Linked DNA regions of Homo sapiens: region 2 is linked to region 1. Evidence: fine-mapped QTL for protein levels in blood plasma. A gene starts in region 1. The other region holds a variant in brackets. All regions are shown on one strand. Distances are between the middles of the regions.

The links. A credible set is the group of variants that fine-mapping cannot tell apart. PIP is the posterior inclusion probability: the model's chance that the variant is causal. Protein levels are from antibody-based Olink assays in UK Biobank. Linkage for the fine-mapping came from a reference panel and not from the study's own genotypes, which makes the PIPs less certain.
Region 2: its variant is the best candidate, but not a certain one, in a credible set for the plasma level of the CDHR1 protein (UK Biobank, PIP 0.54).

Annotation. Positions count from the first base shown.
Region 1 is chr10:84,192,412-84,197,872 of GRCh38, forward strand. CDHR1 (cadherin related family member 1) reads left to right here and starts at 2,126. Exons shown (of 17, transcript NM_033100.4): 1 at 2,126-2,404; 2 at 3,083-3,178; 3 at 4,094-4,239; 4 at 5,375-5,425. The coding sequence starts at 2,350. RefSeq lists silencers at 2,022-2,151, 2,222-2,341.
Region 2 is chr10:84,204,720-84,208,516 of GRCh38, forward strand. CDHR1 (cadherin related family member 1) reads left to right here. Exons shown (of 17, transcript NM_033100.4): 10 at 1,108-1,208; 11 at 3,455-3,658. Among named protein-coding and RNA genes, the nearest start is that of CDHR1, 12 kb to the left of the region's middle. The variant G/A (reference allele first, on the strand shown) is at 876.

The sequences.
Region 1 (5,461 bases):
GGCCTAGAAGCTGAAGCTTCAGTAGATTCAAGATCATCTTCTTCTGCCATGAAAAGGGTTTGAACCAGGCGGGCACAGTGGCTCATGCCTGTAATCCCAGCACTTTGGGAGGCCAAGATGGGTGGATCACCTGAGGTCAGGAGTTCAAGACTAGCCTGGCCAACATGGTGAAACCCCGTCTCTACCAAAAAAAAAAAAAAGAAAAAAAATTTGCTGGGCATGGTGGCGTGCACCTGTAATGCCAATATTTGAAAGGCTGAGGCAGGAGAATCACTTGAACCTAGGAGACAGAGGTTGCAGTGAGCTGAGATCCGCCATTGCACTCCAGCCTGGGTGACCGAGTGAGACTCCAGCTCAAAAAAAAAAAGAGTTTGAACCTTCTTTGGAGCCAACCCAAACTGTATGTGAATCCAAGCTCTGCACCTCAGAGAGAATAAGTCACTTGCTTGGTCGTACACAGCCAATGAGGAAATCTCCCTCCTCTGCAAAGCAGAGAAAATCACATTGGGAGAGCAGTGCAGGTCAAATAAGATAATATGGGCAAATATACATAAGCACACATACAGCACATGGCATGTAGGCTACTCCTTCCCCTTCCCTCTCCAGTGCATGGCTGTTGACTGAGGGAACTGAGGAGAGAGAAATCAACGGCCCTAGATTGGTGAGGAGCAGGGCTAACAGGACCCAGGGAGAGCTGGCTTTTCTCGGCCCACCAAGACATCTACTCCAGGAAACCTTGGCTCTGCCTCTGGCTCCTGGGAAATCCACGGCAAGACTCAGTCTCCACATCCCTATATGGGACTTGCAGAATACTTGCCTTAGCTTTGTCCCAGCACTTTGGGAGGCAGATTCAGAACATCTGTGCAATTTAAAGTGTGTCTTTTCAGCAAAAGAGCCAAGCCTAAGGAGACTCAACAAGGGTTTCGGCCAATTAGGCCTGAAAACTGCTGCACATTCTAAAACCATTGATTCATCTTCCTTCTTCTCTGCAAATCCCTGACCCTTGCTCACAGTAGATCATGTAGGGCTAGACCAAGGGATGGGGGGTGCTCTGTTCCCTCAAAGGCCCCTGGCAGGGGGAGGGGGGGAATGCTGAGTCCTCAGCTGTGGAGACCTCTCCCAGGAGCACACAGAGGAGGGATCTCCTCTATCTGAGAACACATCCACCCAAGGGCATCCTGGGAAGTGGCCTGGCTTGGGCTTGAAGTGACCTGTACCCCCATAAATGGCCCAACCAGGAAAAGGAAAACAGGCTGCATTTCCAAGCACCCTCCAGTGTCAGAGCAGGAGAACGAGGAAGCCCAAGGAGCTTTACCAGCAGCCAAAAAGGTTCCTGGGCTTACCTGTGTCTTCAAGTTATCAGCATCCAGGACCCCAATAGCAGTGCCTTGCTTTGTGTAAATACCCTCTAGGAATGAGATCTCGTGCCTCTCGGGCAGTTCAGATCTATCTTGGCCAGCTCTGTGCAAGTCTGTCCTAAGATGGGGCTTAACTCTGCCTTCAGGCCCTTCACTCTTCCTTGGAAGGTTTGAAGAGTGGGTCAGCTGCCCCTTCATGGTCCCAGACTGGGCACTGACTGGGAATGGGGAGCAGAACTGCCTCTCACCCTGGTGGACACCTGAGGGTCCTCCCTGCTGCCCACCACACAGATCAGACCCTTTGGGAGAGGTGGTCCAGCCTGGGGAACAGGGCAGGAATGGGTTGAGATCACAGAGAGGGGGTCCTGATAACCCCTTACCATCTGCTGCCCATCCATCACCCTTTCTCTTTGCCTTTGGTCTCACGCGGCTTATAGAACCTGCTTAGACTGCTAAGGCAAGGCCCTCTCGGCCGCTCCACTAACTTTTCTTCTGGAATGCTTAGCTCAGAGAAGACAGCTAAGCCCCTGAAAGTCACAGAGGAAGTTGATGAGAAAAGAAAACTGCGAAGCCCAAGCCCCACCAGGACTTAAGTACCCTGGGAAAGCCTCAGGACAACTTGGGGGAAAGACACTCCTGTCCCCCATGGTGTCCTCCTGTCCAGGACTGGGGGCCGCCGGCAAAGGGGGCGTGGCGGGCGGGGAGTCCTCTTGTCACGCCCTCCTGCCCCCGCCCGCGGCTGGGAGCCTGTCGCTCCGCTCTGCGCCGCTAATTGGTCTCGTCAGGCGGCCGGCAGGAGCAGATCCGAGCCGTGTCATCCTCTTAGCGCCCTCACGCCACCCGCCGCTCCCGCCCCGTGCCCCCTCCCGCCGCGGCTGCAGTCGCCGCTACCCCCATTGTGGTCTCTGCCCTCCCCGCGGGCCCAGGGCATGCTCCGTGCCCCTGCGCCCGGTCTCGGCGGCGGCAGGCGACACTCCGCGCCGGCGGAGACATGAGGCGCTGCCGGTGGGCCGCCCTGGCCCTGGGGCTGCTGCGCCTCTGCTTGGGTGAGTGGCCGCTGGGCCGCGCTGGCCGCGTGGATGGCGAGGGAGATGGGCGCTGGCGTCACCCAGGTGGCCAGAGGGACATGGTCCTGGACCACTTCCAGAGTGGGACTCGGGCTGGTGGACGGGAGCGGAGAAGTCCTTCCATCTTCCTGGCCCATTCGGTAGTGGGGAGTGGGGTAGCGGAGTAGTGGGGAGCTCCGGGGCGCTTCTCCAGAGCTGGCATCCTAGGGCCCCAGGGTTTGGCGCCCGGACCCCCGCTGCTCTCCGCTTGCTGGGAACCAGAGCTGTAGGCTTGGTGGCAGCTCCGATGCTGCGTGGGGCAGGAGATAGTGCCCTGACTCGCGGCTTGACCTTGGCTGGGCTGGGGCACTGCCCCTCTCCGAGCGCGGGTGCAATCTGCCCATTGATGAAGGAGGGGTTGGATTGCTACCTGGGTTCTAAGCGCCCACATGCTACGTGTCCCTGACAAGCCCGAGCCCACCGGGGGCGGAGTGGGGGTCAGGGGCATCCTCTGGGCGGCGCCCCAGTGGGGTCCCTCGGTGCACTTGGGTTGGGGAGGCGGAGCGCCCTCCTGCCCAGTAGCTGGGCCTGACGCGGGACCGCGCTGGTGCGAAGCTCCCTCCTGGTGTCTGGGTGTCCTTTGCCTGGGTGTCCGTCTGTTCTGTGTTCTTTTTCCAGCTCAGGCCAACTTCGCCCCGCACTTCTTCGACAACGGGGTCGGCAGCACCAACGGAAACATGGCTCTGTTCAGCCTCCCAGAGGACACCCCTGTAGGTGAGTAGCCCTGGCACCTGCTCCCGATAGGTCTCCCTGAGGGGTGCAGGCAGACTTAGAACACAAAGTGCCCCAGGCACCACCCAAGTTGCTGCGCGCGCCCGGGGGCTCCTTGTTTGCTCTCCGAATTCCCCTGGGCAATGGCAGGAAAGAAGGTCATTGCTGCCATGGCGACTTAAGTCTGGCCAGTCCTGGAGACCAGGGCTCCCCCCCACAGACAGGGTCGCCCCGCGAGGCAGGCAGCTACAGCTGCCCCTTATGGCTGTGTGACCTTGAACAAATGTATTTACCTCCCTGAGCCCCAGGTCTCTAGGCTTTAAAACGGCCTAAGAACATCCAACTTGCTGAGATATGCAGAGAGAGGGGAGGAGAAAGGGGAGATTTCACACTCCTTCTCCCTCACTTTGTGGGTAGTGGGAACCCGGGGAAAAGGGAGAGCAGAGCAAAGTAGGCACCTGGCTCAGAAATCCCTGCAGAACCAGGTCCAGGCATCGGGGACAGTGGTGCACTGTGGGTCACCCCTCCTGCCTTAATGGCTGCTCCCATTTCCCCTTCCCTGTACCCAGGAGCCCCTCAATCTTGGATCCTGAGAGAGGAGTTATTACCAGGCTGAGCAGAACATAGGCACTACAGTTAGGCACGGCAGACCTGCACCTGCTCTGTAACCCGTGTTATAGATTACAATCTGGAAAGTGGCTGATCATCACAACCACCCGCTGTGAAGAATAAACATACAAAGAGGGAAGCAGCCAGCAGGGGTGAGGCCAGCAATGAGCACCAAGTTCAGGGCAGTACCTTTGGCACTGAGTTGAATAGTCACTTTATAAACAGCTGAATCGTTGGTCCTGAGCATCTGCCACTTTTAGGAAAAGTTGGGTCTCAGATTCTATGTCTCTCCACTGTGTTTCCTTCCAGGCTCTCACGTATACACCCTGAATGGGACAGACCCTGAGGGAGACCCCATCTCCTACCACATCAGCTTTGACCCCAGCACTAGAAGCGTCTTTTCTGTTGACCCCACTTTTGGAAACATCACCCTGGTTGAAGAGCTGGACAGAGAGGTATGGGGAGGTGTGGGGAGTGCTGCGGGGCCACTGCCTGTAGACAGACCTCGGTGGGCTGAAGTTCCCCTGGAGCACATTGGTTAGAACCTCTCCACAGAGTAGGGGATGAGGGGGCACACCCCAGGCACATCCACTCTGTGAGATCTCTGGGCCACTTCCCATCAGCAGAGTGGGCTTTACTTTCATGCTCCTCCTTCACACAGAGCGAAGAGTGGGCTCCTTTAACGAGCACCTGCCAGCCCTGCTAATCTTTTAAGCATGTTCCATTAAAAATAAATCCGTTTGCACTTTGAGGTTTCTGAAAGAAACCTCACAAAGTGATTTTTCAAGCCTGTCCTGGGAGAGGCACAGGAACTCAGAGCAGGTCAAGGCTGGAAAGGGTGGTTGGCAGTGAGTCTGAGTTTGGCAGAGCTCCTCCACTCTACACACTTGAGAACTTGCAGGCAACAGGGCATGGGCTTTTTCAGACCGCATAGCAGCCTGGTGTGTGGCTAACTGGACCTCAGCTGTGGGGATGCTGCCAGCTCGTGACAGCCTCCACTAGCTGCAGGACAGGGTAGAGAAAGGAAAGGGAGGTCTCAGGGACTGCTGTGGGGACACAGCAGTGGAGCCTGACTGTGCTGCCAGTACCCCACTCCCTGGCACCCGCGGGATCTGGCAACATCCGATACCCTTCCCCATTGAGGTCTCACCATATCCTGGGAGCACTGAGACACCATGGATGTGAGCCTCTGCAGAGCCCTGGAATGTGGAGAGGTGTGGAGAGAAAAGGGGAGAAAAGGGAAAAGAAAGAGGAAAAGTCTTTATGGGACCTTGAGCACACTAAGGTCGACATCTCGCCTCACTGTGGCAGGAGAGTATTTTCTGTTGGAGCCCCAACAGACCCTCTGGGTCTCTGAGTTTATAAGAACCCCGGACACAAAAGTCCCAAAATAAGGTCTCAAGCATGGGGGGAGGCAGCTTTCTACTCTGCCAGGCATGCTGTCACCACCACTTACCCTGCTCCAGGGATCTATTGGCACGCCCAGACCTCCTCTGATGGGTGCGTGGGGCAGGGAGAGCTCCATCCAGCCACAGGGGTCCTATGGCGTGTCAGACTCCTGGACACTCACTCAGTCCCTGTGCTTCACAGAGGGAAGATGAGATTGAAGCCATCATCAGCATTTCTGATGGCCTGAATCTGGTGAGTGCACGTCCAAGGCAGTCCCTGGCAGCCTGC
Region 2 (3,797 bases), 11 kb after region 1:
GTATGGAGAGGAAGGGCTGTGTCCAAGACAAGCAAGTCTCTGGGTTGTGTGCTTCGGTCCCTGCCTGTCATGATATCCAACAGCCAAGAGAGCATGGGGCAGGGGCGCTGAGAGCAACACGGAGGTGCTAACCCATGCTCCTCTCCCCCTGGGTATTTGCTCCTTGATGGGAATGCGTGGCAACATTTCTCACACTTTTTAAGTGGCTATGTATTTTCCTCATTCTTTTTAATTGTTATCCCACAGCATATAGATGAATTAAATGAATCAAATGCATTGGTGATATGGCATCTCCCTAGTGCTAGCCCTATATATGGACAAGAAAACTGAAGTTCAGAGAAGCTGAGTAGGCATCCCAAGTTTCCATCATTGTATTTGAACCTGAGCCTGCTAGCTCCACAGTCTGTGCTCTTCCCACAGCTGGGCAGCAACTGAGCCAGATGAGCTGTCCCTGGGCCAGGCCAGGGCATCGCATCTGGTGCCTGGTACCAGAAGTGTGCATGTCTATATGCCCCGGCCTTTCTCTAGGACATGCCTGTGCATACTCACTTTCCAGCAGCTCACATGTGGGCTGCCAGCCTCCTTTCCCCAGCCTCACAGGACCTCAGCTGCCTTCCTTCCCATCACCACTGCAAACCTTTACCCAGTCCTTGAGCACCCACCCCATCTCCTGCCTGTCCCACTCCACACCCTCCCTCTCCTCTCTTTATTCCCTCCCTCCTGTCCCTTCTTTCCCCCCTCCCCTTCCATGTCCGTCTCTCACTGTATGTCCTCCTGCTTCCTTTCTCTTTTCTTCACACACACACACACACACACACACACACACGTGCACACATGCACATATAGTATTATGCATAAGAAAAGGGACACAGTAT[G/A]GAATGTGGGAGCTGGACAGAAGTGAGTTCAAGTCCCAGATCTGCACTAACTGTGTAGCCTTAGACAAGTTACTTAGCCCCTCTGAGACTGTTTCCATGTTGACAAGACACAGATGACAGGATTCCATTCTATGAAGACTTCCCTAGGCAATGCAGGACGATCCTGTGGCACGACTCCCCTGCGCCTCCCTGTGGTCCTGTGCAGAACTTCAGGGTGCATCTCCCTTGACAGGGAACGATGGAGCCTTTGAAATTAATGAGACATCTGGAGCCATCTCCATCACTCAGAGCCCGGCCCAGCTCCAGAGAGAGGTGTATGAGCTGCATGTACAGGTACCCTCCCTCTAGCTTTGTCTTCCCTGCCCACCTTTGGCCCTGGAAGTCTATAAAGGTGAAGACACCCAGGCCCTTTTTCCTGGGGCCCATAGTCTGGGGAGGGGGCTAGATGTTGTTCTAAAGAGCACCTGCACCAGACATGAATTCACAAACAGGGAGTCACAGAAAGGCAAGAGGAGGTGCAACTGAAGCAGCAATGCCTGAGCATGGGTGGGATCCTGCAGGTGCATGCTGCCAGAGGCGGGCATTGGGTGGGTGGGGGTGGAGTGAAAGCATTCCAAGACAGGAAAGTGCAGCAAGCCCAGGCTGGAGGGGAGAGAACTGATATATTGGGGGAACAACAAGGAGTCAGTTGAGGCCAGAGCAGAGAAAGATGGGCAGCCTGGAGAAGGAGGAAACGTTGGACTCCCAGGCTGGGGCCAGAGGAGCAAAGGTCCTGAATGGGAGGTATGGATCTGTCGCTAGAGCCGGGCATGTGACCTGTGAAGTCACACAAGGACTATACTTAGGAGGATCCCACACTAAGCTTAATGCTCGCTGTTTGCTGTCTTGGAATTCTTAATAATTTCACCAAGGGATCCCATATTTTTATTTTTCGCTGGGCCTGCAAATTATGTAGCTGGTCCTACCCAAGAGCAGTAAGGAGCCATTGGAAGGTTTTCAGCAGGATTACAGCCACTTGAAAAGTTCACCTGGCTGCTCACCAGACCAGTGGAGTTCCCAAATTTGGAGATTTGGGCCAACCAAGATTTTCAGGATCCACTCCCGGGCATAGGAATTCAGTGTGTTTGGGGCAAACCCAGGAATCTGCGTATTATAAGCACCCAGGTAATTCTGGTACCAGTCCCAGCCAGAATTTGAGAACTCTGGTCTCAACTTGGGTTCAGAGGGAACTAGATGAGAGGTAGAGCCATCGGCCAAAGTAACAGAGGAAGACAGCCTGTGGGGCTGAGGGTAGGTGGGATGGAAGAAAGGGACAAAATGAAAAGTATGCATGAGGCAGATTGCACAGAATGAGGAAATTGCCTGATCTTGAGGGAAAGGGATGGGAGAGGGATAGATGAAGCCCAGGTGGTCCCGTGCCGTCAGGAGTACAGGACAGCAGGCAAGTGAAGTAGGTGAGGAAGGATGCATTTGAAGGCTCGAGGGACATGCAAGTTCAAACATCAAAACTTGGGCATACAGGTTTGGAATTGTGGGAGAGAATGTCAACCTACAGGTAGCTGTGGAAGGCATGGGAGGGAATAAAAGCACCCAGAGGAAGAAGAAGAGAGAGGACAATTGGCCAAGCACAGCTGCGGGAGCTGTGTGAAGAGGCTGAGAGTGAGGAGGAGGAGAGGGGCAGGTAAAGGAAACCCAGGAGGGATCAGAGAGGTTGAGGAGAAGATGTAGAGAGCAGAGTCACATTGCTGTGGGAATAGAGCACTTGGGAAGGAGAAAGAGTAGCAGTGCCACATACAGTGTGGAAGTCAGGGTGAAGAATCTGAATGAGGGGTGGGATGAGAATCAAGAGGGATAGCAGTGAAAGTGTCAAGGAGTGGAGTCCAGGTAGGGTTATTTTAGGATACAAAAGACCAGAGCATGCTTACAGAACAAGGGAAAGGTGGTCTTGAAGAGGTTCATAGGATATCTGCCACATGGTTCACAAGGTACCTATGGGATCTTTGCCCTGGCTTTGTAGGCTGTATTAGTTATCAGCTGCATAACTAATTACCCCAAACTTAGTGGCTTAAAACAATACACATTCATATCTCATAGTTTCTGTGGTTCAGGACTCCAGGCTCAGCTTGGCTGGGTCTTCGGTCTCCAGGTCCCTCACATGGTTGCAATCAGATTGTCAGCCAGGACTGGGGTCTCATCTGCAGGCTTGACTGGGAAAGGGTTGGTTTCCATGCCCACCCAATTATTGGCAAGACTCAGTTCTCTGTGAGCTGTTGGACTAAGAGGTTCAGCTCCTTGCTGGCTGTTGGCTAGAGGTCACCATTAGTCTCTGTTAACTGTAGCTTCCTGCTTCATCAAAATCGGCAAGAGAGAGAGTTCACAAGACAGACGTTACAATCTCTTGTCATGTAATCATGAAGTGATAGCTTGCCATCTTTGCCATATATTATCAGTTAGAACCAAGTTGCTAAGCCAGGACACACTCAAACGGAGGGGATTATACATTCTGCAGGGGAGGTAGGAGCTGGACCATATGAAGGGTCCACCTGCCACACAGCCATAGCCACTTGTCCCCATCCCAGGTGACTGAAATGAGCCCTGCGGGGAGCCCAGCTGCCCAGGCCACCGTCCCAGTCACCATCAGGATTGTGGACCTCAACAACCACCCGCCAACATTCTATGGAGAGAGCGGACCCCAAAACAGGTTTGAGCTGTCCATGAATGAGCACCCACCCCAGGGAGAGATCCTGCGGGGCCTCAAGATCACCGTCAATGACTCCGACCAGGTGTGTGGTCCTGCCCTCCGCTCTGCCTTCTCACAAACGGTATGAAGCCAAGGTCCCAAAGCTAAGTGGGTCTGCATCAACCTGCTCTGCGTATGTAGCCGGGACCAGGTGGGCCACAAAATGAATGAAACAAGAAGTT